3 separate regions of the Homo sapiens genome follow, and all the other regions are linked to region 1. Evidence: fine-mapped expression QTL. A gene starts in region 1. Each other region holds a variant in brackets. All regions are shown on one strand. Distances are from middle to middle.

Region 1 (8,177 bases):
ACTGGGTAATTAGTTCACTGATCTGCATCTAGTAGATGTTCAATAAATGTTGGTGATGGACTGTGGTGGTTTACAGAGTCCAGACGTTGTGTTTGACCTTTGCTGCTGACTTCTTGGCAAATGCAGTGCAAGACGCAGTGTTAAAGTGGAAAGAACATCTGACCAGCAGTCTGAAGACCTGCGTTAGGTTCCATCTATACCACTTAATAGCCTGGTGACCTTGGACATGCCATTTAATCTCTTAGGTGTCTTCTCACCTGTAAAACGAGGAGACTGGGACAAGGTGATTTGGAAGGTCTCGTTCAGCTCTAAGGTTCTGGGGCTCTAAGTAACTTCATTCGCTTGTGTTTCTGTTTCTTCATTTATTCAAAGGCAGTAGGGACAGAAACCTATCTCATAGGATATTGGGAAGAAATGGTCAGTGTGCATGTTGAAATACTCTGTATCTTTAGAGATATGAAGGAAAGGCAGTCAGCCAGAGCTATGTTAACAGAAGGGGAAGCTGAGTATGCCTACAACCTCTGAGTTCCAGGCCCAGCTCAACCACTTTCCGGCTGTGTGATCTTTGGCAAGCCTCCTAATTTATTTCGGCCTCAGTTTACATATCTGTGAACTGAGGACCATAAGTTGTGCTATGTTAACCTTATCACATTCTTTTGAAAGCCAAGACAATGAAATGCTTCAAAAAAAAAAAAAAAACCTGCAAGGCATCATATAGACTAGTATAACTGAGAAATGGCATGCTAGTTATGGTTGCATCAAAGCTTAGCCCCACGCCTCCCATATTTTATTTTATTTATTTTATTTTATTTTATTTTATTTTTTTGAGACGGAGTCACACTTTTGTTGCCCAGGCTGGAGTGCACAATTTCGGCCTACTGCAACCTCTGCCTCCCAGGTTCAAGCGATTCTCCTGCCTCAGACTCCCAAGTAGCTGGGATTATAGGCACCCACTACCACGCCCAGCTAATTTTTGTATTTTTAGTAGAGACGGGGTTTCACCGTGTTGGTCAGATTGGTCTTGAGCTCCTGACCTCAGGTGATCCACCTGCCTCAGCCTCCCAAAGTGCTGGGATTACCAGGCGTGAGCCACCGCACCCAGCCACCTCCCATATTTTCAAATGAATGGATGTGTCACTGTGATTCCAGAGGAGAAACAGAAAATGCAGACTGGGGATCACAACCCCAGGCTTATTTCTATTTTAACTTACTGACAGAGATGAACTTTAGCTAAAATGGGCATTAATAAGTTTCCCAAAGAGTAGGCCTCAGGTAATTCCCTCAATGCACTCCAATGTAGAGGATTTTTCCAGAGGCCAGATAACAGCTGGTGGAGGCCTTACTCCCCACCCTCTTCTCCAAAATGAGGCCATTTTGACATTTAGATATTTGGGAAAATGGGGAGGGAGGGAAATAGCTTTCTGAGTTTTGAAAGCTTCACATGGCAATAATCACAAACACATAAAGTGTGTCTGTTATGTGTAAAAGTGGCGCAACAGTCTTTGATCCCAGCCTCACCAGAGATTGCTACTGGGAAGAAGTGGCAGAAGGCTTCATCCTGCCCACCCGGGGTCTAGCCCAGACATTTTCCTCTGAGTGCCTGGAAGTCTCAGCCTGGAAACTAGCTCTCCAAGCATTGGCGTCTCCTGTGGCTGCCTAGATGACAATGTGCCACACCTGGCTAGTGACACTGAGAAGCTTCCCCACCCTCTGTGCAGGACATCAACAATAACCCCATCCCTGCAGCATCTCCCGTTTAGCCCCTCCATCAGGCAACACCCCCAGAGGAAGAGAATGCGTTTAGCTTGGGAGGTGGGGGAATTTCTCTGGTTGGAGGGGGCAGCCAGGGGCTTGTCATGAAGCTGTGTTTTCATAGGAAGCACACTATTTTAACTCAGGTTGTACATATAAGCATATAAGTGATTGAAAATAGCCCAGTTATTTTTAAATAAATTATTCTCATCAATTCTTATAATTTTTGTTTGGGCTGGTTTTGCGGGGACTGATGAAAATTATGAGGGTCTTCTCTCACGGCTTCCTTCAGGGTCCTACCCCTGTCGAACCTTCGCCATTAATTCTGTCATCCTTTTGCCTGAGATAAGCTATGCGTTTCCACTTTCAAGTACATATATACGGATTCAATACACTCACTGCCTTTCTTTTAAAAAGCTGATTCACTTCAAAGCCAATTTAATTTTGCTTAGTTTTTGATCTCCCCGCGCCCCCTTTCCTCAGCCCCTATACACAGGTAGGTGAGGGTTCTAAAGCCATTTTACAGGCGTGATTGAAGCGGAGGCCACAGAGCGGCAGCGCTGGGTCCCGAGTGAGACTCCCATCATGTGGCTCTGGGGGGCTGCGCAGCTTTGACTGCCTGGACAGACGCCCAGAGCTGCAATTCCTGGGCAGTGTGGGAGGCGTTCGGCTAAAGCTCTTTGTTTCTGCTGTCATGAGCGACTCCTCGGAGAAGACGTGGGAGTCAAGGATGGGGGGCGGCGTGCACACCGCCCGCCCACACCTTCTGCCCCCGCTGCAGACCGGGCGTATGTGTGTCTCCAATGGAAAAATCCTACCCAGGACGACACCACATCCTTGCTCCCACAAATAAAACCTTCCACGGAACTCAGGGCTGCAGACCAGCCCTTCGCAAGCCAACGCGCCCCGTGGGCACTCGGTCCCCCGGCTCCGCGTCTCTGCCACCTTCCCACCGCTTCTTCTTTAACCATGCTCTTGTTTCCCCTCGCTGATCGCAAGGCTGCGGGCGAGGATTCCAGAGAGAGGCCTAGTATGGGGAACAAACGCTTCAGAGGGGTCCGAGGTGGGCTGGGGACAGCCAGTGGATGGGAAGGAGGGCGCTGGCGCCGGGCGGCTGGGGTGGAGGAGTGGCGGGTGCCCTACCCCGGCGCAGAGCAGCCGCCGAGCTGTCATGTCCCGAGCGGCCCCCGCGCCCTCCTTGCGCCCACCTCCGCCGCGCTGGAGTTCGGGGTGTGCGTGGAGGGGGCTGTGAGCGGGAAGCGGCGCGGACGCGGAGTCCGGGCCGGTGCGAGTGAGCGCGTGTGCGCGTGGGAGAGCGGCGGGAGGGGGCCGGGCTCGCAGCCGCAGCGAACCACGGCCCCGGGAGCAGAGCCGAGCGCGCCCCCGAGCCGCCGCCCGCCGGAGCTGCGAGCGCTGAAGCCATTCATGATTTTGGTGACGTTATTCCAGGAGTGGGCGAGGGAGGGCGGGGCCTCTCGGGGCCAAGCCCCGCCCCCGCCCCTATAAATACGGCTTCCCGGGCTCTTTGTGGGGCTGAGTGCTCAGTGGAGAGCGGGGAGTTGTGTCCACCTTGCCGACGTCGCTAGCCGTGGGGCTGTCCTGGGAAGGCGGACGGCGAGCGCCCGGTGTCCGCACTCGGCCGCCTGCCGTGCCCGTCTGCGCCCGTGTCATCCTCACTCGGGACGCAGGGACCGTTTTTAAATCACAGGGGCGTGTGTCAGCCTGCCCTAGGACTTCATGTCTATATATTTCCCCATTCACTGGTGAGTACCCTGCGCCTGCGGCGGGCGTCTGTCTCGCGGCGGTGGCTGCGGGCCCGGGCGCCTGCTTCGTGCCGGCTCCGGGTGCGAGGGCAGCCGGCGGCGCGGGCGCTCAGCGCTAACCCGCCGCCCGAGCCCGTGCAGGAGTCAACGTCAAGGTTGCAAAGGTGGGGGTGGGGGGAGGGGGTGCTGAGAACATCCAGACAAAGGACGTGAACTCGGAGCCCTCACCTAAGTGACGGCCGGAGGGTTTGTATTGGTTGGCGGGGGAGCCAGGGGTCACGTGTGAATCCCCCCCAATGAAACCACCCTATGCGGAGAGCTGCAGGAGGCGCGCGCCCCACTTGGCGCAGGGGGGCTCCTGCTCTTCCCGGGCCCCTCCTCTTTTTCTTTTTGTTTGCATGCAAGTCTCAACGTCGAGGCCGGCAGCAGCGGGGCTGAGCTGGTGCGGCCGCAGGGTTTGCAGAGCTCCGGGGGGGTGGGGGGCGGGAAACGCTCTCCCCACACGTAACCCCACTAAAGCCACAAGCAGCAGGGCACGCGCTGCAGCCTCTCAACCCCTGCCCTCTCCACCGCCCCTAAAAACCGACGCACATTGGTGGGGGCCGGGACTGGGAGGAGCCGCCTTCGCCGTGCTGAAGGGGAAGGAGCCCGGGCCGGGCGCGGGGCGTCGGAGGTTTGCCCCGGACTGGGGATCGGAGCCGGGAGGGATGCAGAGAGAGGCAGGCCCCTGACTGCTGGGACTTCCTTGCTGGCAGTTTCTTCCTTCCTGCTCTGGGTTAGAGGAGAAGCGGCCGGGGGCGAGCGCCGGCAGCCCCGGAGCGCGCTCTCAGGTGCGGACGTGGGGAGCTCGGCCCCGAGTCTCCGGCAGGCGCTGAGCGAAGGGAAAACCGGCGCAAGCCGCGGCGGGGTCCGGCCTGGCCCAAGAAGCGGAAAGTTCATGCTTCTCGCTTCAACTTTTCGGGCCGGCGCCACAGCCCCGAGCGAGGAAGAGCCGCCCCTACGTCAGACTCTTCACCCTGCGTGCGCTCTTCTGGCTCCTTTCTTTGGAGGTCGCCAGCAGCCTTTCCAAGACCCGGGAGGAAACTGCCTTTGCAGGGCCCAGCTCCCGAACCTAAACTTGCCGCAAAGCCCCGCATCTTCTGTTAGTCTCCCTGCCCCCATCCGTCCCAGCCTGGCAGTGTTTAGAGAGGGGACTGAACTTCCCTCTCTCAACAGTTCAAGTTCCCCCACCCCGAGGCTTGTGTACCCTTCTTGTGGGTGCCCCTCCCTTGCCTCTCCCGTGGTGTGTGAGCAGCTAGGTGCCTTATTATAGGTGAAGCTTTGAAGGCTGTTGGAGGCTTTGTGCCTTTGGCTGCTCAAAATTTGCCAAGGTGGGTGTTTGGACCCATTAAGAATATTATGAGAAATTAAGGTTTAAGTTTATTTCATCGATTAGCACTTTGCAGCTTGCAATGCTTTTATGCAGACATTAGCCCTTAACCTAACTGTGAGGTATGCACTATTAGCATCAGAGTAACAGACAAACAGGACACTTGTGGCTCAGAGAAGTTACAGGACCTGTTCAAGATCACACAGTTCTTGAGGGGCAGAGCCTAGAACCTATTGCTTCTGTTTCTAAATCCAGTGTCATTTCTTATCTATGTAGTAACCATACAATTGAAGAGGCATCTGGTACCCCTGTTTCCTTAGATACTGTCCCTCAAAAGACTCCCCCATATTTTTGTTTTAAACCATGTGCACAGGCACGATGGTGGAAAGCATTGGGTGCTGTGTAGCAGGTACCTGTATTTGGTGCTTATGTTCAGCATTATGTGCACGGGATCCTGTATGTGCCCAGAGTTTGTGCAAGGATAAGGGAATATTCGTATCCTGCTTAGAGAGTACAAGGCACTTTCACATGTCAGCCATTGGTGGGCCAGCTTGGCCCCTCTGGAAATTTCCTTTGCAGTCAGAGTCGGGTATCCTTAAGGCTTTTAATCCAGGGGATGTTTTTCAAGCTGTGAGCATGCAGCTGCTGTGTCTGGGGCTAGAGAAAGGGGATGGATGGCAGATGTGAAACTTGCAGAAAAGCTGACCCCTTGGGGCTTTAAGTGGAACATTTTGCCAAAAGGAGCACCAGAGAGACAAATTTAGGAAAGCTGTATGATTGGACTTTGTTTCCCTCCAGTTGACCTGTTATTGTTATTGTGTATTAATAATATATAGAGTTCCCCTTTGGAAAGTTCATGTGAGGATTATTTTTATTCTTAGTTGGAGAAGTGAAGGGAGATGTGGTTGAATTGGTTTTAATATAGACAGATGGACTCAGCTACCTACTGTTTTGGTTTCTCTGGTTCTGTCATTTAAAGAAACATTCAGGGTCCCTCTGTGCCAGTGGGGACTAGAGTACAGGAGAGGAGGGAAGAGGTTTGCCAGAGAGGTCTGCAGACAATGGGCTTTGTCTGTTGCGGCTGAGCCCTGGGGCTGTGGGCTTGCAAGGCGCTTCCTCAGGGTGTGAGCTTGTTTTGCTGCAAGTTCTGTTTTGAACACCTCTCTTCCTGTCTCCAGACAGTCCCCTGATCCCACAGCAGTGAATGCATGAAGAGTTAGGAATGTGAAAGCGCGTGTGTTTGTTGACTTTTGGTCTGGGTTTCTTGGCAGCCCCGACTATCTGAGATCGGCCAAGATGACTGAGGTGATGATGAACACCCAGCCCATGGAGGAGATCGGCCTCAGCCCCCGCAAGGATGGCCTTTCCTACCAGGTGAGTAAGTCCTGGCTCCCCTCTGACTCTCTAGAGCCTAGTGGTTTTTGCTGGGGGTGAGGACAGACTTGGTTTTGCATCCCAGTGCCACATATAAGAGCTGTGGGACTGTGGCAGAGTCCCCTAATGCCAGTAAGCCTCAGTTTCTTCATCTGTAAAATGGGGCAACAATCGTCCTTATCTCCTAAGATTGTGGTAAAGATTCACCATGACAAGTGGATGTGTAGGAAGCATTCCTAGTGTCTGGGACAGATAAGGGCTCAGCAAGCATTAGCCATTGTGATGAATTGACCCTACTGGCTCTGTGAACTTTGCCATTCACCGCAGCAAAGGAGGAAATGATTTGTTTAGTCGATTGAGACCAGAACTTTCCTTCCCAGCCATGCCTGGGGTAGTAGAAGCATTGCTGTCGGGGGCTTCTGCAGAAGGGTGGTCTGGTGGGGATAGCCATGTCCAATGCTGCTTTCTTCCTTGGGTTGATTATTGACCTGTTGATTCAGAGTTAACATTCAAACCACTTAGAGAGGAAGATATTTTCCCCAAAGGGAGGCTAGCTCAGGGATGCTATTGCTGGGATCTTGCTTGGAGATCATCCTGTCTGGTGGATCCAAAATGCACAAGGATCACAAAAAGGGACCAGAGTGAGCCCTCTGGACTCTTACCCCAGCCCTCTCTCTGGCTTGCCCTGCTGCCTCTCTACTGCCCCTGGGTTGGGGGTGGGAGCAATGGAGCACCTGCAGTTCCCTCTGGGCTGTGAGCTGGTTTGGGGTTTTGGAGGAGAGTTCCTATGTTGTTAAACTGGGGGGAGGGAGGAGTCTCTTCTTAAGGAAGACCTTGGAGCTAGGGAAGTTGTGTAGGATGGCCAGCCCAGGGAAGTCGAAAGGGAGTGTGATGGGTCCATGGGTCCGTGCTACAGACATGAAGGTATGCCCACTGCACGCCAAGCACTCTACAGACGCTGCCTTGCTCACATCTTACCACAGCTCCCAGGCGGGGATCCTCACCCTGTTCACAGATGAGGAAATGGCTCAGCCTGAGTCAGTGACTTGGGTCTGTCTAACCCCAGAGCCTTGTTCTTCTGATGTATTGTGTGTCCACACCATGGCTTGGTTCCGCTAGGGTCTAGGTTGACTCTGGCTGGTCATTCCTTAGAACTGTTCCAGGGACATTTATTTTGTAAATTAAAAAAAAAAAAAAATCAAATAGAAAGCCAGGGAGCCAGGGTGGGTGCCATGGAGGGAAAGTAATCAGATAGAACCAAGCTAAAAGTTCAGGCAGGGTCACTTAACTTCAGACATGCTTGGGAGGCTAAGGAGGCCCCTTTGTGTTGTCTATATTGGCAGGCCTGTCTTGAAATAAGTAGCCATTAGCTTGAAGGGGGTGTGTGGAGCAAGGGGGAACTCTCTTTGCTACGTTTGACTTTTCTACCCTCCTCCCCCAGAGTGGGTCTGAGGAAGACAATTGAGGGCCCCTCAACCTGGTGGGAGGGGTAGAAGTTTCCTGGCCCACCAGCCAGGGGGTTTTGGGTAGCAGTTTCCAAGCCCCTGAGTCAGAATGAATCTCTTTGTGGTTACAGGTGAGGTTCTCTTTCGGTTCTGGGTTTTAGATTTCCATCACAGAACCTTTCCAAATGCAGTCATCTGTTCATCTTGTGTGTGCTTTTCATATTTTCCTTTTAAATACATCCCAGGATAAAGGGCCAGGCCCTATAGGGCCGTTTTCTCAATGCTTCGAGTCCTTCAGGCCATTCTGCTGGACCTGAGACTCAGGGCAGGTGGTGAGGGAGGAAGGAGCTGGGGGAGGAAGGCCAACCTGGGGCTGCAAGGGCAGCAGGAAAATAAAATCACCTCTGGGTGCCTGACACATCTCAGCACTGCCTGAGCAAAGGATCCACACATCTTCCCTTGTGGTGCTGGACT
Region 2 (8,177 bases), 100 kb after region 1:
GGCCACTGAGCACCATATCTCTTTGGTTTTAAGGAACAAACATAAACTTTGGGTCCTCCCAGACCATAATGACTTTATTCTTACTTCCTGGCCTCATTCAGGAATACCTTGGAGAACTGGGTCATCTATTCAACTGGTCAGGAGAACCACCATGATCAGGTACCACACAAGGGCACTAAGATGTTGACATTTATTAAGATCATGCTCTGTGCCAGGCCCTTTCACTCTTCACGGTAATCTTATGAGGTGATCTCATTGAAGAATGGAAATTCTTCCCCAGGAATTTCAGGGGTAGGTATCCTATTTTTATCATTCCAGGGGAGAAAATGGAGGCACAGAAATTTAATAACTTGCCCACATGTACTCATCTTGTGACAGAGTTGGAATTTGGACTCAGGCAGTCTGGCTCCAAAGTCCAGAGTTCATGGTCTCAACCCCCAATCTCTACTGCATGGCTTTGACCCTCTGAGCACTTGCGAGGTGAGAGGCTGGGGGTGAACAATTCACTAGGCTAACTCAAAGAGCCTTGACCTTGGGCAAACAATGTAGCAGAGGATCTCACAGGAAAACAACCAGGTTCACATCCTGGTCTGTTCTCTTTGCAGCTCCTACAGAGGATGCTGTCATTGTTCCTATTACAGTTTCTTCTAGACTCCGGCCCTCATTTAGGGTTTTACATTGGCCATTTCCTGCTGGAGGAGGAGGGGGAGTTTATTACAATCAACTCCACTGCAAAGCGGACTCTCCCCACCCACAGATTTCATAGCAAGAACCCCAGCCCTTCTTTGTCTGTGTCTGAGTTAATCTGGGAGGAGGGAAAGACCCAGGCCCTGCTCTGGCTGTGCGTTCAGCTCAGGCACTTGCTTTATGTTGTTTTCTAGAACTGACAGTGACAAGTGTGGAGACACCTATCCACTGAATCCCATGTGGTAAAGAAAGGGGCATGATGGGTAGGGAGTACAGCACAGACTCATCCTGTCTGCCACTGGGACCTGAGCTTAGCAAAGAGGTAGATCATGAGATAGGGGTGCCAGGAACTAGCCCCCAAAAGCGGAGCCTTACATAGAAGTGAGTCTTCTCTGTGAGGAGGAATTTCCTGTCTTCAGTGAGATCACTAGCACAATCACCAAGAAAAATTGCTTCCGTGGCCTTTGGGTCCTGCTGGCTTTTGCTTCCTAACCACCTTCCAGAAGCCCCCCGAGACTTTGGAGCAACTGACCTGCTTACTGGCTTTTCGTCCTACCCAGATGCCCCACTCCAACTATATTAGCGAGGGTCTGGGTTGCAAGCAATAGAAACTGGCTCTAGTTAACTTAATCAGGAAAATAATTTATTGGAAAGGTCCTGGGCCACCCACAGGATAAACAGGAAGGCCGAAGAAAAAAGTACATGTAGAAGCTAAGGGTGGCAAAGGCCTAGGCGAGTCCTCATCACAGGAATTCAGCGTGGGAGGCTGCTACAGCCATCACTGCCCTACTGGACCCCATCACCTCTGGACACACTTACCCTGCCCCAAAACCCCAACTTCAGCACCACCGCCACCAACAATAACCTTGGATAGAGCCAAGAGTCTTTGTGTGGCCTCTCTAGAACAAAGTCCCAGGCAGGCACCCACAGTTGGCTGTGCCTAAGTCCCTGCTAATGTTCTAGCCTGCCAGGCTGAGCAAAGGGGTGATCTATCCCCCACCTTTGGAATGACCTTGCTGCTCATCTTTTCCGTTGTTTCCTCCCAGATAGAAAGGGCTTGGGGAGGCAGAGGATCTAAAAAGAACTTACCTTACCGCAGATTCTTCTGAAGGAGAGATTAATTAGCTATGTTGGATGGAGAAAGGCAGCCCAAGTCTCTCCTTCAGCTTCTCTGTTACATAAATGGCTGTATTTCCATTTTAGCTAAACTAATTTAAGTATGGTCTTTGTCACTTGTAGCCCAAAGAATCCTGACCCTTACCACCATCTGCCTACCTAAGGTTCTCAACCAAGGATAGCATAGCCCCCAGGGGATCTTTGGAAACATGCAAAGTATTTGTTTGCCTTTCAATGATTGCTGTTGAAAGGTACTAATACCTGAGAGGTATAGCACCGTCAAACACAGCAAAGATAGCCCTTGCCAAATGCCAGTAGTGCTGCTGATGGGAAGCCTTGCACCTACATCAACAATGACAGACATCATGGTCAGCATCTCCAGTCTCCCCACTGGAACTGGACATGGCTTCATCGCTGTCAACATGGTGCAGAGTCATGACAAATTCATCACAGTTGGGAAAACCACGCATTTGCCATCCCTGATTATATACCAACTCCCTGTCCCCACTCCCTTTTTAAAAAGCTATGGAAACTGAGACTTGGAGAGAATGCATCATTTACGCAAGGTCACACAGCTTATTTGGTGGCAGGTGGCAGTCTAGAGTCAGTCTATGGCCTCAGATGAAGGCTCTTTCCACAACACTCTGCTGCCATTGTGTTTTTCACAGAGGCAGGCTTGGAAAGTCTGGACTCGCTTTGGAATGCTCAGGTTTCCAGGGACCTCCCTGAGAGCTCCCAGGTGACTGGCTTCAAGGCTCAAGGCAGGACCCTGGGTCCCACAGTGCCACCTGCAGATGTTGGTGATAAGAGAAAGAGAGGCTCTCTGTGGAAGGGGCTGAACTTTGTGGGCAGACTTGGCACCAAGCAAAAGGAATAAACAGAGAGCTGAAGTTTCACCCAGGGGAGGATGAGGGCTCCATACAGATTTGCAGAGACTTGGCGCAGTTGCTTTAGCCAGATAATCACACAGGAGCTAATTAGCCCCTTCCTTCCCAGCTCAGCCCTCTGGGGCAGCAGGATGCTCAGTGGAGAAGAGAAACCCATTAATTACTTTATCAGGAAGTGCTGATAAGAACCCAAAAAAGGTATTGCTCTAAGGCTCTGAGCTAATTAAAGAAGGCTGCAGGGTGAAGGGATGTGTCTCACCCAGGGAAAGCAGAGCACACACTTTGATCTTGAGCCCCATAGCCCCAGACTGAGCGCAAGAAAGGGCTTCTGGGCCCCCAGGGAAACTTCACCCTTGCAGGTTCAGCAACCCCAAGACTGGGATCATTATGAATGAGGAGTCTGCTGGCAGTCAGGCCAGCTCAGCCTGGGGATGAGGGGTTCTGAAGGAGGCAGTCGGGGTCTCTCCCCCAAGATGCCACACAAATAGCATCACTGGAATGTGATGTAAGGGTGTGCATCTTCTGACTAGTATTATTATCATACCCATTTTTTCAGGGAGGAAAACAGGGCTCAAATAACATACAGTGTCCAGTCAGGGATCATTCAAGTAGGAAGAGGCAGAAACACAACTTGAACCCAGATCTCCAACTGGAAATCCATGTTATTAGCATCACGCTGTGATAGTATTCTGCAGGGTCTGAAGGTGTCGCTTCCAGCCAGGCAGGCCTGGGTTCCAGTCCTGGGATCCTTCTTTTCTTAGCTCCTAAAGCTAATTCCTTCCTTTCTCAGAATGCTTGTTTCCTCATCACGGCAGCAAGGCTAATCACACCCACTCAAATGGTTATCAGGAGGAGTATATGAGGCAAGATGACATGTGCCAACCACCTAGGACAGAACCTGGCAGCCATTAGTTTCAGTCTCCAGTGCACAATTTGCAAACTGGTTTTTAACTGCAAAAATTTTAGTTCAAATATAATCTTACAAAGATACCCAATATGCAAAGAGCTAAAACTGAAACTTCTCTGAAGGAAGGGTGATGGGTGGCTCAGCACCCCACCCACTCTGGCCCCTCTCCCACCAGCAGAGGCTCTGTTGAACACTCAGAATTTCTCAGAGCACAGTCAGGCAACCTGGATCTGGGGGAAGAAGAATGCTCTGAGATCTCAAAGGACTCTGAACACATGCCCCAGATTAAGACAAATGATATCCTTTTGTTGCACAGAGGACATTAACGATATCCTTTTGTTGCCAGAGTGGGTGGGGAGCTGAACCACCCAACAATGATAACATTGTTTCGCTGGATATTTATCAAATGGCCTAGAGAGGGTGGAATGCCTTTGGTAAGCAGGTATCCAAAGACAATAGCATAGGTCATACTGAAACCTATGTCCCAGGATGTAAGATGTTATGAGTATAAACCCTGATTCCTCTGAAGACATTGGAGAGATGCAACCGTCATCCTTGTAGTACCCGAAACATGGTATTCTGGGAGGTTGGGATTGAGGGGATGGAAAAGGGCCATTTGTCGTGGACTCTTCCTTTGATGAACTCATTTGGAATTACTATAGAAGACACCATACCCCATGGATACACGGTTTCCTGCTCCGGCCCCTCCTCTGCTAGCTTGGCTACTCAAAATCCAACTAATATTGACTGAATGTCTGCATGCCTGCTATGTATCTGGAACTCCTGAGGCACACTCGGGTCTTACTTCATTGAATCTTCAAAACTGTCCAGCAATTCAGAGACTCTTACCACAGTTTACGGTTGTGAAACTGAGGCTCAAAGCAGTTTGGGACATTAGTCCTGGACTTGCAGCTATTGAGAGGACAGGGTTCAAACCTAGCTTCACCCAAGGCCAAGTCCAGTGCTCTTCCAAGCCCCCTCCATGAAGCTTTCCAGAGAAATCCTAGCTGTGCCCAGCCATTCTAGATACTGTCCGGGAGGACACCTTAGAAGCTTAGGACAGCCTGGGTGATTCAGCCTAGAAGAACACACTAGGAGAATGGTGAGAGACCTGTGTTCTTGTCCGTTCTAATTTTAACCCGGTAGGTCCCTTCTCTAGATGTAGTTTTCTCATCTGTAAAGCTGAGAGAGTGGCTTTCTAAACCACTTCCTGTTCTGCAT[C/G]TCCTCCCCATGACTGCCTGTGTACATCTGAAAGCAATGGTTCTGGGGCCTGAGTCTCAGTCTGATGTGTTTACATGTCCCTGGTTTCTTTCGGCCTGTTCCCCAAGAACGGTCTCCAGGCCCGCGCCCTCAGTGCCCCTGAGCTGCAGCTGCTTGCCTGGCCTCCCAGCCCCAACTGCACCTGTCCAGCCCGTGCTCTGGGGAAGTTAGCAAGGAATCAGGACCCTGGAAGGTGGCACAGGCTCAAGGTGGCTGCAGAGGAGGCAACTACAAGTGCTGCTGAGGGACCTCCTCCCGGCAGCCCTCCAGAATTACTGCTCCCCAAAGTAACTCTCAGGTTGTTTTAATGAAAGATAAATGCATGCTACCCTGTGCTCAGTTTTTATTTTCTAGAATGTGTGGAACAGTGAGGGAATTGTAACATCTTTTTTGTTTTGTTTTGTTTTTGAGTCAGAGTCTCACTCTGTCACCCATGCTGGAGAGTGCAGTGGTGCGATCTTGCCTCACCGCGACTTCCGGCTCCCGGTTCAAGTGATTCTCCTGTCTTAGTCTTCCGAGTAGCTGGGATTACAGGCAGGCACCACCACGCCCAGCTAATTTTTGTATTTTTAGTAGAGACAGGGTTTCACCAAGTTGGCCAGGCTGGTCTCAAACTCTTGACTTCAGGTGATTCATCCACCTCGGCCTCCCAAAATTCTGGGATTACAGGCGTCAGCCACCACACCCGGCCTGTAACATCATTTTTTAAAAATCAAACACACAGTGAGGTGGTGTCACAACTCCTCAGATGGCTGAGAATTGTTAGGAAATGCAACCCTGTGGCTCAGACTCCACACTCAACTGCTCTCTGGAAGCATCACCTGTGCCCAACCTCACCTCAGTAGCGGAGAATTGCTGGATCAGTATACAGACTAGCGGAGTGGTTGGGAGAGTAGGAGCCGCTCTGAAGGGATCAAGCCTCAACTGGATGCAGGAATTCCGGTGGTTTATTAGCAAGAGAAGGCACTTGGAGGTGCAAGGAGTGCAATACTGAACAAAACAGCCACAGTCCTTACCCTCGTGGAGCTTAGAGTTGTCAGGGAAGGATATGGACAGTAAACAGGTAAAGTAATAAATATATATGTAATCTAAAATTGAGAAAATGCTACAAAGGTCAGAAGCAGAGTGTGTGATGGAGAATAAGGGTGTTTTTGGGTTGGAGAGAGGGACTTCCACTGAAGCAATGTTGTCAAGGATGATCCATTTGAAGGGGTAACATGTAAGCTGAGAGCTGAAAGTCAAGGAATCAACTGGGCTACAAACTGGAAAAAGAGCCAGAGGCAAGGCCAAAGGCCCCAAAAGAGGGTTCAGCAAACATTCGGTGCAGGGCCAGATAGTAAATACCTTTGGCTTCATGGTCCATCAATCTCTGTCATGCCTGTGTTCCAATAAAACTTTATTTATAAAACAGAAGCAGGAAGTATTCTGCCAATTCCTGCCCTGAAACAATAAAGCATGCATTGTGTGTTAGGAAAGAATGAGGCTGGCTAGCCGGGCCAGGGAGGAAGGGGAGGGTTTCAAGGTGAGGTGGAAAAGACAGGAGTGAGGTCATGGAAGGCTTTGTAGAACATGGAAAAGACTTCGGATTTATTGTAAAAAGCCACTGCAGGGTTTTAAAGCAGCCAAGAGACATGACTTGATTTATACTGTGAAAGATTACTCTGGTTACTGTGTAAAGAAAGAACTGGAGAGAGGAAAGGGAGGAGGCAGGAAGACCCTCTTGGAATCTACTGTAATAGCCATGGGAGAGATGCTGGTGACCCGCTATCTGGTGGAGATAGAGAAAGGCAGATGGCTTGAAGATCCAATTTGGAGATTACATCCATAGGACTTGCTGATGATCACATGTGGCAGAGGAAGAGCCAGTCCTCAAATATGGCCTTCAGGATTCTGGCTTAAGCAAGTGGGTGAATTTACTGAACTGTAGAAGATAGGAAACAGAGGGGCTAGGTCAGGGGATAGACTCAAATACGGAAACCAGAACTTCAGTTTCAGAAACACTAAAGTTGAGATGCTTGTGAGACATGTAAGTGTCGAGGTCCAGTAAGCAAATCTGATCAGGATCTGAGAGGCAGGGCATATGGGGCTTATAGGACACGCCTCCTTCCTCAGCTTGGCCCCATTTTCCCCTAGGCTCAGTTGTTGCCCTGATTCCTAGCTGGAGCAGCCCCACCGTGGTATGATGACCTCCCGGTGGTTATGAACCTCGCTGCCACTGCTATGGCCTCACCTTTCATTGCTGACTGAGCCCCACAGATGAGGGCCAGGCTTCATCAAGCCTTCCATGGCGCCTTCCCTGTCAGGGGCCTCAGTGGCTCCAGAGCCCATGTCCAACCATCTGAACTTAGGCATCTCTGACTTCTCTGGTGGCTTTCCAAAAGGGCCTAGTGACATAAGCAGAAAGTGCAAAGGACTTAACTCCACAAGTGGCAAACCTTAACCAATGTGAGCAGGAGATGGGAAGGAACTGGCAGATAAATTGTTCACCTTCCTTCCCTCAACAGTTCTGCCAAGATGCAGTGGTCCCATACTGCTTCTCTCGATGGCTCACGTGATCAAGCAATCAGCTATGTGTTTTCTTGGGAAGCTGTGGCCAGCTCCACAAAAAACTATGATGTGATGGCTTCCCTCCTCCCCTGCCTTACTTCCCCTTTGCCCTCAGTCCTGCTTTCCCTGGGATTATACCCTCCAATAAAACATTAGCCCCTAAGCTCTGCCTCAAGTTCAGTTTTGTAGGGGACCTGGGCCTATCCAACCAGTTTAGATGCTAAAAATGTTAAGCACCATCTATTTATTTCACAAAGATTTTTAAAAGTACTTATCATATGTCAGGTATTGTTCGAAATGCCTTACAAATATTAACTCATTTTATCCTTATGATGATCCTGTAAAACAGATATTATTGGTATCCCCATTTTAGAGCTGAGAAAACTGCAACAGAGAGGTCAAGTAGCCGTATAGATCAGTGCTGGCTATGGAAACAATGCAAGCCTCATATGTAGTTCTAAATTTTCTAAAAGTTACGTAAAAGTAAAAAGAGACTGGTGAAATTAATTTTAGTAATATTTTTATTTAACTTAATATAGCCAAAGTATTATTATTTCAACATGAAATCAATAAAAACCATTTTAATGAGATTGCTGACATTCTTTCATACTAAGTCCTTAAAATCCAGTGTGGGCTGGGCATGGTGGCTCACACCTGTAATCCCAGCACTCTGAGAGGTTGAAGTGGGAGGATTGCTTGAGTCCAGGAGTATGAGAGCAGGCTGGGTAACACAGTGAGACTTTGTCTCTACAAAAAAAAAAAAAAAAAAAAAA
Region 3 (8,177 bases), 26 kb after region 1:
TCTTATTGTACCGTACCTACCTATCTTGGGATTGCAGTTGACCGTGGGTAACTGAAACCAAGAAAAGCAAAACTGTGGATAAGTTGGGGGGTGGTAACTAGAATTATTGTGAGGTTTGAGATTCTGCTCAGGAAAAATTTCATCCATCATCATCATCATTAGATTTTTTTCCTTATTTTAATGAAAGACCTGTTTCCAGCTTGAAGTGAAATCCAATGCTTCCCACCCCTCTCCTCCTCTTCGTCCTCTTCCTCCTCTCTTCCTCCTCCTCCTCCCCCTCCCCCCCTCCTCCTTTTGCTGGGCCTGCCCTGCTTGTCATGCCTTTTGCTTTTCCTTGGCTTAGGCTGTCATAGTTAGAATTGGGTTTTCACTCTCCCAGCCCTGACAATGTGGCCCTGGCACAGGTAGGCACAATCCTGGCAGTGAGGTCAGAGGGTGGAGGCAGGGCCAGGCTCTTCACAGGGCAGGTCCCCCTCTCCTCTTGACAGCTTATGGCGCTGTCTTGGATCCTGAAGGTTTAAAACAAGCATTGGGACTGGGAAGCTCACCTCCTGGGCTGGGGCCCTCACAGCTGCCTGGGCAGTGAAGGCCCAGAGTCTTACTCTCCCTCCCTGCTCAGTTTTCCATCTGTGAAATGGGGTGGAGACCCAGCAGCAGCCTAATCCATTTTCCAGAAGGCTCAGGCACTGAAAACAGCAGATGTAGGTTTGAATCCTGGCTCTGCCATGTGACCCACAGAGTCCCGGGTCTTACTATTCCTAGAGTGGCAGTGAGCCCTGAACGAGCTGACATCTGAAAGAGCTTCGTGACCTGTAGTGGGCTTCCCTCCATCGGGGTCCCTCTCACCCACTCTCAGAGCTCATGCTTGGAGGGCGCCTTGTGTCCTCACAGCCCATGGGGGGCTCTGGCCCCACCCAAGAAATGAGGACGCACCCAAAAAGCCCACGTGGCGCTCCTCGCTCGGCACATGCACGTCTGGGCACAGCGCCGTCTGAGGGCAGAACTTCTGGGCCAACCTGGTCAGGAAGACAGAGCCCAGAGTCGGGGTCCGTGTCCCCCTCTGCCTCCGTGACCCACACTGGCCCATCCCCTCCCTGGACTTGTTTTCCTCCTGGCTGCCATTATGATACCTTTTATGAGCCTCGTTAAGTCTTTAATGATGCCTGGTTGTGCAGCTGGCTTAAGGCTTAATCCCCAGCAATAGGTCTTATTGGATAAATGGTTAATAATCACTCGTTTGCAGGTATTGGGAAGGCTTCACTGAGGCCTGTGATTCCTGGAAGCCCCACGTGGCCTGTGATGTGGTGAGAGTGTGACTTGGCTGGGGCAGCACTGCATGGGGTTGGGTTGCAATAAGACCGGGTATCCTCAGAGCACCACAGAAGTTGGGAAGGCCTGAGTTTGTAAAAGGGCCTTTCTTCTATGTCCTGGTAATGGGTGACTCCTGTCTGCTGCCGTGGGCCTGTCCCCATCTGGATCAAGGTGCAGGCAGGACCAGGCAGCCCCCCAGATCTCTTCAAATGTGTCTCCACCCACTCAAAGTTTTGCTTTCCTTTCTTGTGCCATGAACAAGCTGTGTGACCTTAGGCAGGTCTCCTGACCCCTCTGGGGCCTTGAGTTGCTCATCTACCAAATGGAGAGGTGGGAAGAGATGGCCATGAAGGTGCCAAGTGCCTGATTCTGGGAGCCCAGCATCCCAGACAGAGGCTTCTCTCTCTAGCTCTGGGGTGTGTCACTGAGGGCTGTGAATGGCAGGGACCAGCAGCCCAGCGGATTAAGTACTTAAACTGCTGGGCCAAGAATTGGGTCAGCTGTAGTCACAGGGCAGTGTATGCAAAGGGAATCCGCAGAGCCAGATTTGGCCCTGATTTTATAGCTGGGTTTGGAGTTTCTGCCAGCTCTGGGCAGGACACAAAGTAGGCATTAAAAAACAAAGCCTGGCTGACGGGACTCTGGAAAAAGAAGTAGACTCCTTCAGGTGTAGAGCTGGCAAGAAGCCAGGAACTGTTCACAGGTGAAAAAGGATCCTTGGATTTTGTTCCCAGCCTGCCTGTGACTGGGGACCATGCCGTTCATCAGGATTTGGCTTTGACTTTACAGTTGCAATGGGATGAGGACCCATCTGCTTGAGGGACAAGCTGGTGTTGGGGCAGGGGAATCGAACATATCCAGTTTTTGTTTTTTTTTATTTTCAAGATGGAGTCTCGCTCTGTCGCCCAGACTGGAGTCCAGTGGCGTGATCTCGGCTCACCACAAGCTCCGCCTCCCGGGTTCACACCATTTTCTGCCTCAGTCTCCGGAGTAGCTGGGAATACAGGCGCCCACCACCATGCCCGCCTAATTTTTTTTGTATTTTTAGTAGTTTACCATATGAGAGGTTTCACCATGTTAGCCAGGATGGTCTCGATCTCCTGACCTCGTGATCCACCTGCCTCAGCATCCGAAAGCACTGGGATTACAGGTGTGAGCCACCAGGCCCAGCCCAGACCCAGTTTTCAATCTCATCCCATCCCTCACTCATTTCTAGGCTGTCTGGTCTTGGACCACCTACTCTCCCAAGCCTGAGATTCTTTAAGCTAGCATTAGCAACACCTGTTTTTCAGCATGACTGTGTGGGTTGGAAGTGATATATGTATAGCACCTGGTAACCTGCTCACTTAGTGCCAATAATTATTCCGGGAGGTACTTAATGCTGTGGCACCTGTTGTATTCTTTGTACTGCTGGAGTAAAATACTTCCTGCAGAGAGAGACCAGACTTACTGTGGATAACATGATTTGGGATGATTTTATCTGCAAATAAAATACAGAATCCAAACAGAATCACATCAACCTTTAAACTCAGCGGCACTGCCCCCAAACTTTCAGCTTCAGGATTGGAATGGAAGTCTGACTGAGGGACAGTTTCCTATGTTGCCCCAGAATATTCTCCCGTGGCTCCCACCTTATATACTCCACAGCCTCCCGAGTGCAAAGCACAGTCCCTGGCCTATGGCATGCACCCAGTATGCCACATGGATGTGCAAAGAAGGAATGGAATTTCTCTTTTCAAATATCTACGTGACCAGGCACCTGCTCTGCTTTTCTTTCAGATCTTCCCAGACCCGTCAGATTTTGACCGCTGCTGCAAACTGAAGGACCGTCTGCCCTCCATAGTGGTGGAACCCACAGAAGGGGAGGTGGAGAGCGGGGAGCTCCGGTGGCCCCCTGAGGAGTTCCTGGTCCAGGAGGATGAGCAAGATAACTGCGAAGAGACAGCGAAAGAAAATAAAGAGCAGTAGAGTCCCTGTGGACTCCCATGGGTCATACCAGCCAGCATCTGTTCCTGAACTGTGTTTTTCCCATCATGACGGAAGAAGAGAGTGAGCCGCAATTGTTCTGAAAATGTCAAACGAGGCTTCTGTTTTGCACCTGCAGATCACCGAGTTGGTTTTCTTTTCTTTTCTTGCCTTTTTTTTTTTTTGAAATTTGCCGAGCAGTGGAGCCCTCTGACAATTTGCAAGGCCCTCTGAGAAAGGAAGCTGCTTAGAGCCAGGGGGTTAGTGGGTGAGGGGAGCGAGTGCTGTTTTTGAGATCATTATCTGAACTCAGGCAGCCTAGTAGAGGCAGTGGTGGGATTCCAATGGGTCTTGGTGGGTGGGAGGTGGGGCATGTGCAA[A/G]GCAAGCAAGGAACATTTGGGGTAAGAAAACAAACATGAGGCAAAAGAAAAAATACATGTTTTTAAGAAAACATTGAGCAGAGAACTGCAGCCAGGATGCGCTCAGCAGACATTCACTCTGGCTGCTGGGACATCAGAAAACAAAGTCTTCATCTCTCTCTCCAGTTTCACCCACCCCACCCTTTGCTTTCATTTCAGGTGTGTTGGTCTATATGACAGGGAGGAGAGTAAAGGAGAGCAGGAGCAATTGGCTGCCTGCAAAGCCAGCTGGAGGTGAAGTGCAGGAAAGGAAAGGTCACCCCATTCTACTCCATGGCCTCTCTGCTCCCAGCTGTGGTAGGCTCACATAGCCAGTGTGATCGGTTTTTAAGAGGCAGTGCTTTTCAGCTTTTCTCCCTGATATATCCATTTTGCTTCCCAGCACTTTTTAGGAGTAGTGAGAGCACTTCCTGCCCTTGTTGGAAGCCCCAGGGTGGACACTCAGCACGAAGGTCTCTCCCTTAACTGCTGCCCTTCCAAGACTTGCTCCCGAGATGGAGTGGGCGTGGTCTTCCAGGCTGGCCCTTCCTTCTCCTCACCGCCACCTTCCCTGCCCCAGCCCCAGCAGCCATGGGTACATGGGTCCCCAGCTCACCTATGGATTCCCGCCAGTCTGCCCAGCTGCAGTACTCACGCCCCATGGGGGATCTTGGTCTGTTTTTCTTGTGGGAGCCTAGTGGAGAGCAGACGTGGCTTTTTATGTGTCTTGTTGGGGAGGTGACTTGCATGGTGGGGACAAGGCTGTCGTGGCAACCTTGGGATCGAGTTTGAGACTAAAGGATGTCATGAGATCCCTGGCTTCTCCCCATGTTGTTCCCGGACAAGGGCAGAAGGGAGGCATGGCAAGGGACCTCTGCTGTCCTTACTCAACAGTGGTCCTCATCCCTCCCCACCTCCCACTGCTTCCTGCAAGGGCACCAGTTGTATGAGAAAGTTGGCCTTTGGACTTAGGATTTCTTATTGTAGCTAAGAGCCATCTGAAGCAGCAGGTTGCAGGACAAATGCTTCAGTCCGCCGAGAGCAGTACCGTGTGGCCAAGAGGTGGACTCAGAGCCTTCCTTGAGCTAAACTCGGCCAACCAAGGCACGCAGCATGTCCCCTCAGGTCTCCAGTCAGTCCAGGTTGACCCTCAGTTCTGGACGTGTGTATATAGCTGTATTTAATACCTCAAGGTCATTGTGGCTCTGGGGATGCCGGGGCAGGAGGACGAGGGTGCGCTGTGGACACAGCAGTCCGCGGAATTCCGTTCTGGGAAGCCAATGGTCGCCGGCACCCCTTGCTTCCTCCCTCTGTTGTCTGCCTGTGTGACACACATCAATGGCAATAACTTCTTCCAACTCCTCGCAGAAGTGGGAGAGGCCGGCAGCCTGCACCGAGAGGGGCTTTCCTCTCTCTTGCTCCCCGCTTCGTTCTGTTTTGGCTGCAGAGAGTGGTTCATCCATACTCTCATTCCCTCGCCTCCCCTTGTGGACGGGGGTCTTGCCTTTTCAATTCCTGTGTTTTGGTGTCTTCCCTTATCTGCTACCCTGAATCACCTGTCCTGGTCTTGCTGTGTGATGGGAACATGCTTGTAAACTGCGTAACAAATCTACTTTGTGTATGTGTCTGTTTATGGGGGTGGTTTATTATTTTTGCTGGTCCCTAGACCACTTTGTATGACCGTTTGCAGTCTGAGCAGGCCAGGGGCTGACAGCTAATGTCAGGACCCTCAGCGGTGGAGCCTGCTGGGGGGACCCAGCTGCTCTTGGACAAGTGGCTGAGCTCCTATCTGGCCTCCTCTTTTTTTTTTTTTCAAGTAATTTGTGTGTATTTCTAACTGATTGTATTGAAAAAATTCCTAGTATTTCAGTAAAAATGCCTGTTGTGAGATGAACCTCCTGTAACTTCTATCTGTTCTTTTTTGAGGCTCAGGGAGAAACTAGCATTTTTTTTTTTCCAAACTACTTTTTGTCACTGTGACAGTTGTAAATAAAGTTTGAAAATGCTTTCCACTCTGGTCTGGTTTCCTTTTTCCCTTCCTGTTCCGTTGGAATGGAGTGAGCTCAGGAGCAAGAAGAAGTCCTGCAGGAGGCTGAGCTGGGGGAGTCCCAAGAGAGGCTCCTTATGTAGCTCACCTGATGGCTTGTCTGGGGAGAATTCACTGGGGAGATTTAACCCACAGCCAAGGTGTGAACTACCCTTCTAAAGGAAGAAAAACCCAAGACATATCTGAAGGTCATTCACAGGGGCTGGAGGGTGAGTGGGTGGGCATGTGGCAAGCTCAGGCTATCATGCAAAGCATTTACTGAGCACCTACTGCTTGGCAGGCATTAGTAAGAGGTCAAGGTCACAAATGGCAATGGCCCTGGTTCTCATGGCCCTGCCTTGGTGAAAAATTAAATGACGAATATGGTGAGTGCAAGGCAGGATCAAACTGGGATGCCCTGAGTGTGAACATCAGTTGGGAGGGTCAGGAAGGTCTTTGGAAGCAGTGACAAGGAGAAGTTAGCCAGGTACTAGGTGGCAGGGAGCAGAGGGGAGTTGGGGGCATTGGAAAATGATTCCAACAGGGAGAACAGCTTGGCAAGGGCTTGGCGGGTGGAGTGGTAGAAGAGGAAAGCATGCAAGAGGGCTACTCAGTCCTGGCTAGGAGTTTGGATTTTATTCTAAGGGAAGGACCTAGCATGGTCTGTTTCACATTTTAATACAACCTGGCTCAATGGAGATGGGATTGGAGGGGGCAAGATGAAAAACCTAGAGACCAGGAAGGAGGCTTTGTGGAGGTCAGAGTGAGAGAATGGTGGTTTGTAGAAGGGATTTGGGGGCATTTTTCTAACCCAAGGCTATTTTTGCCTTCACCCAGCCCTCCTCCGGGTTCCTTAACCTTGGTAAGTGTAGAGAATCCAGTGGTTTGTGCTGAAGGTGTCTACCAGGATTTACAGAATAATGACCCATTTTAACACTAGCCTTAGTGAAACAACTAGATCTATGGATCTGCTGCCCCAAGGATAACTGGCCGGACTTTACCCTCCTCATATGGATTGCCCCTTTATTTTTCTCCAGCAGCCTGAAGAGGAATTTATTAGAATGCAGCCTCCTTGAACACACCCCTGCAGAAAACTGTCTTTATTTGCAGATGACATCATCTGTGTAGGAAATCCTATGAAATCTACACAAAAAAGCTACTAGAACTAATAAATGAGTTTAACATGGTTGCAGGATCAAAGCTCAATATTCAAAATGACTGCATTTCTATATGTTGGTAACACCGACAAAAAAAACAAACACTGCATGTTCTCACTCATAAGTGGGAGTTGAACAAAGAACACATGGACACAGGGAGGGGAACATCACACACTGGGGCCTGTCGGGGGGTGGGGGGTAAGGGGAAGGAGAGCATTAGGACAAATACCTAATGCATGCAGGGCTTAAAACCTAGATGACGGGTTGACAGGTGCAGCAAACCACCATGGCACATGTATACCTATGTAACAGACCTGCACATTCTGCACATGTATCCCAGAACTCAAAAAAAAAAAAAAAATAACAGAACCTTGACATTTAAAATGCAATTTACATTAACATAAAAAAATATAAACTATTTAGGAGTAACTCTGATGCAAAATATGCAAAACCTCCAAAACAATGAAAACTGCAAAACACTGCTGAGAGAAATCGAAGAATCCCTACATCAATGAAAGCTCTACCATGTTCATGGATCTGAAGACTCAATGTTAAAATGTCAATTCTCTCCAAATTGATCTATAGACTCAACACAATCAAAACCTCAGCAAGCTGTTTTGTAGACATTGATGATCTAATTCTGAAACTCCTATGGAAATGGAAAGAACCCAGACTAGCCAAAACAACTTTGAAAAAGGAAACTAAAGTTGGAGGACTCTCAGTTCTCAGTTTCAAAAACTTAATACAAAGCTACAGTCATCAAAACAGTGTGGTGTTGGCATCAAGATTGACAAATAGATCAGTGGAACAGAATAGAGTCCAGAAATAGACCCACAGATGTGTGGTTAATAGATTTTTGACAAAGGTGCCAAGGCAGCTCAGTGGAGGAAGGAAGTCTTTTCAACAAGTGGTACTGGAACAATTGGATATCCATAGGAAAATAGCCCCTGGTGATGAAAGATGAGTCTTCACTTCTGTCTCCCACTGCCTCCATGTGACTTTTAAACAAAATAATTATTTGTTTGGAAAAAAGTTTCGTTATTCTTTTTCATGGTTAGCCAGTTGCTTCAATACCCTCCTGCTTCACCCCAAGTTGCCTCCTCTTCCCTGAAGGAGAAGGATTGGGTGACACCTGGCTGACTTTGCTGTGTTATTCGAGCTGACTTGCATTCGAGTCCTGTGCAGCCCCTCCATAGGTGCTGTGGGGCCATTTTGTTAATGTCTAGGATCCTCAGTGTTCTTGTCTGTAAAATGGATATAAGACTAATAACTCCCGCATAGGGGTGTGCAGATTGAGCACCCAGTAGGTGTTCCACAAGT

Evidence for each region.
Region 2: its variant is fine-mapped to the expression of LBH in whole blood (TOPMed, PIP above 0.99).
Region 3: its variant is fine-mapped to the expression of LBH in whole blood (TOPMed, PIP above 0.99).

What each region holds. Positions count from the first base shown.
Region 1 is chr2:30,228,250-30,236,426 of GRCh38, forward strand. LBH (LBH regulator of Wnt signaling pathway) reads left to right here and starts at 3,285. Exons shown (of 3, transcript NM_030915.4): 1 at 3,285-3,515; 2 at 6,156-6,258. The coding sequence starts at 3,490. RefSeq lists enhancers at 1,951-2,466, 2,467-2,981 and silencers at 2,785-3,334, 3,535-3,624, 4,015-4,214, 4,225-4,284, 7,980-8,177.
Region 2 is chr2:30,332,428-30,340,604 of GRCh38, forward strand. No RefSeq gene overlaps it. Among named protein-coding and RNA genes, the nearest start is that of LINC01936, 10 kb to the right of the region's middle. RefSeq lists enhancers at 3,563-3,612, 3,633-3,732, 3,823-3,882, 3,893-3,962, 4,823-5,012 and 1 more. The variant C/G (reference allele first, on the strand shown) is at 4,819.
Region 3 is chr2:30,254,343-30,262,519 of GRCh38, forward strand. It overlaps LBH (LBH regulator of Wnt signaling pathway), which reads left to right. Exons shown (of 3, transcript NM_030915.4): 3 at 3,091-5,686. The coding sequence ends at 3,279. Among named protein-coding and RNA genes, the nearest start is that of LBH, 27 kb to the left of the region's middle. The variant A/G (reference allele first, on the strand shown) is at 3,657.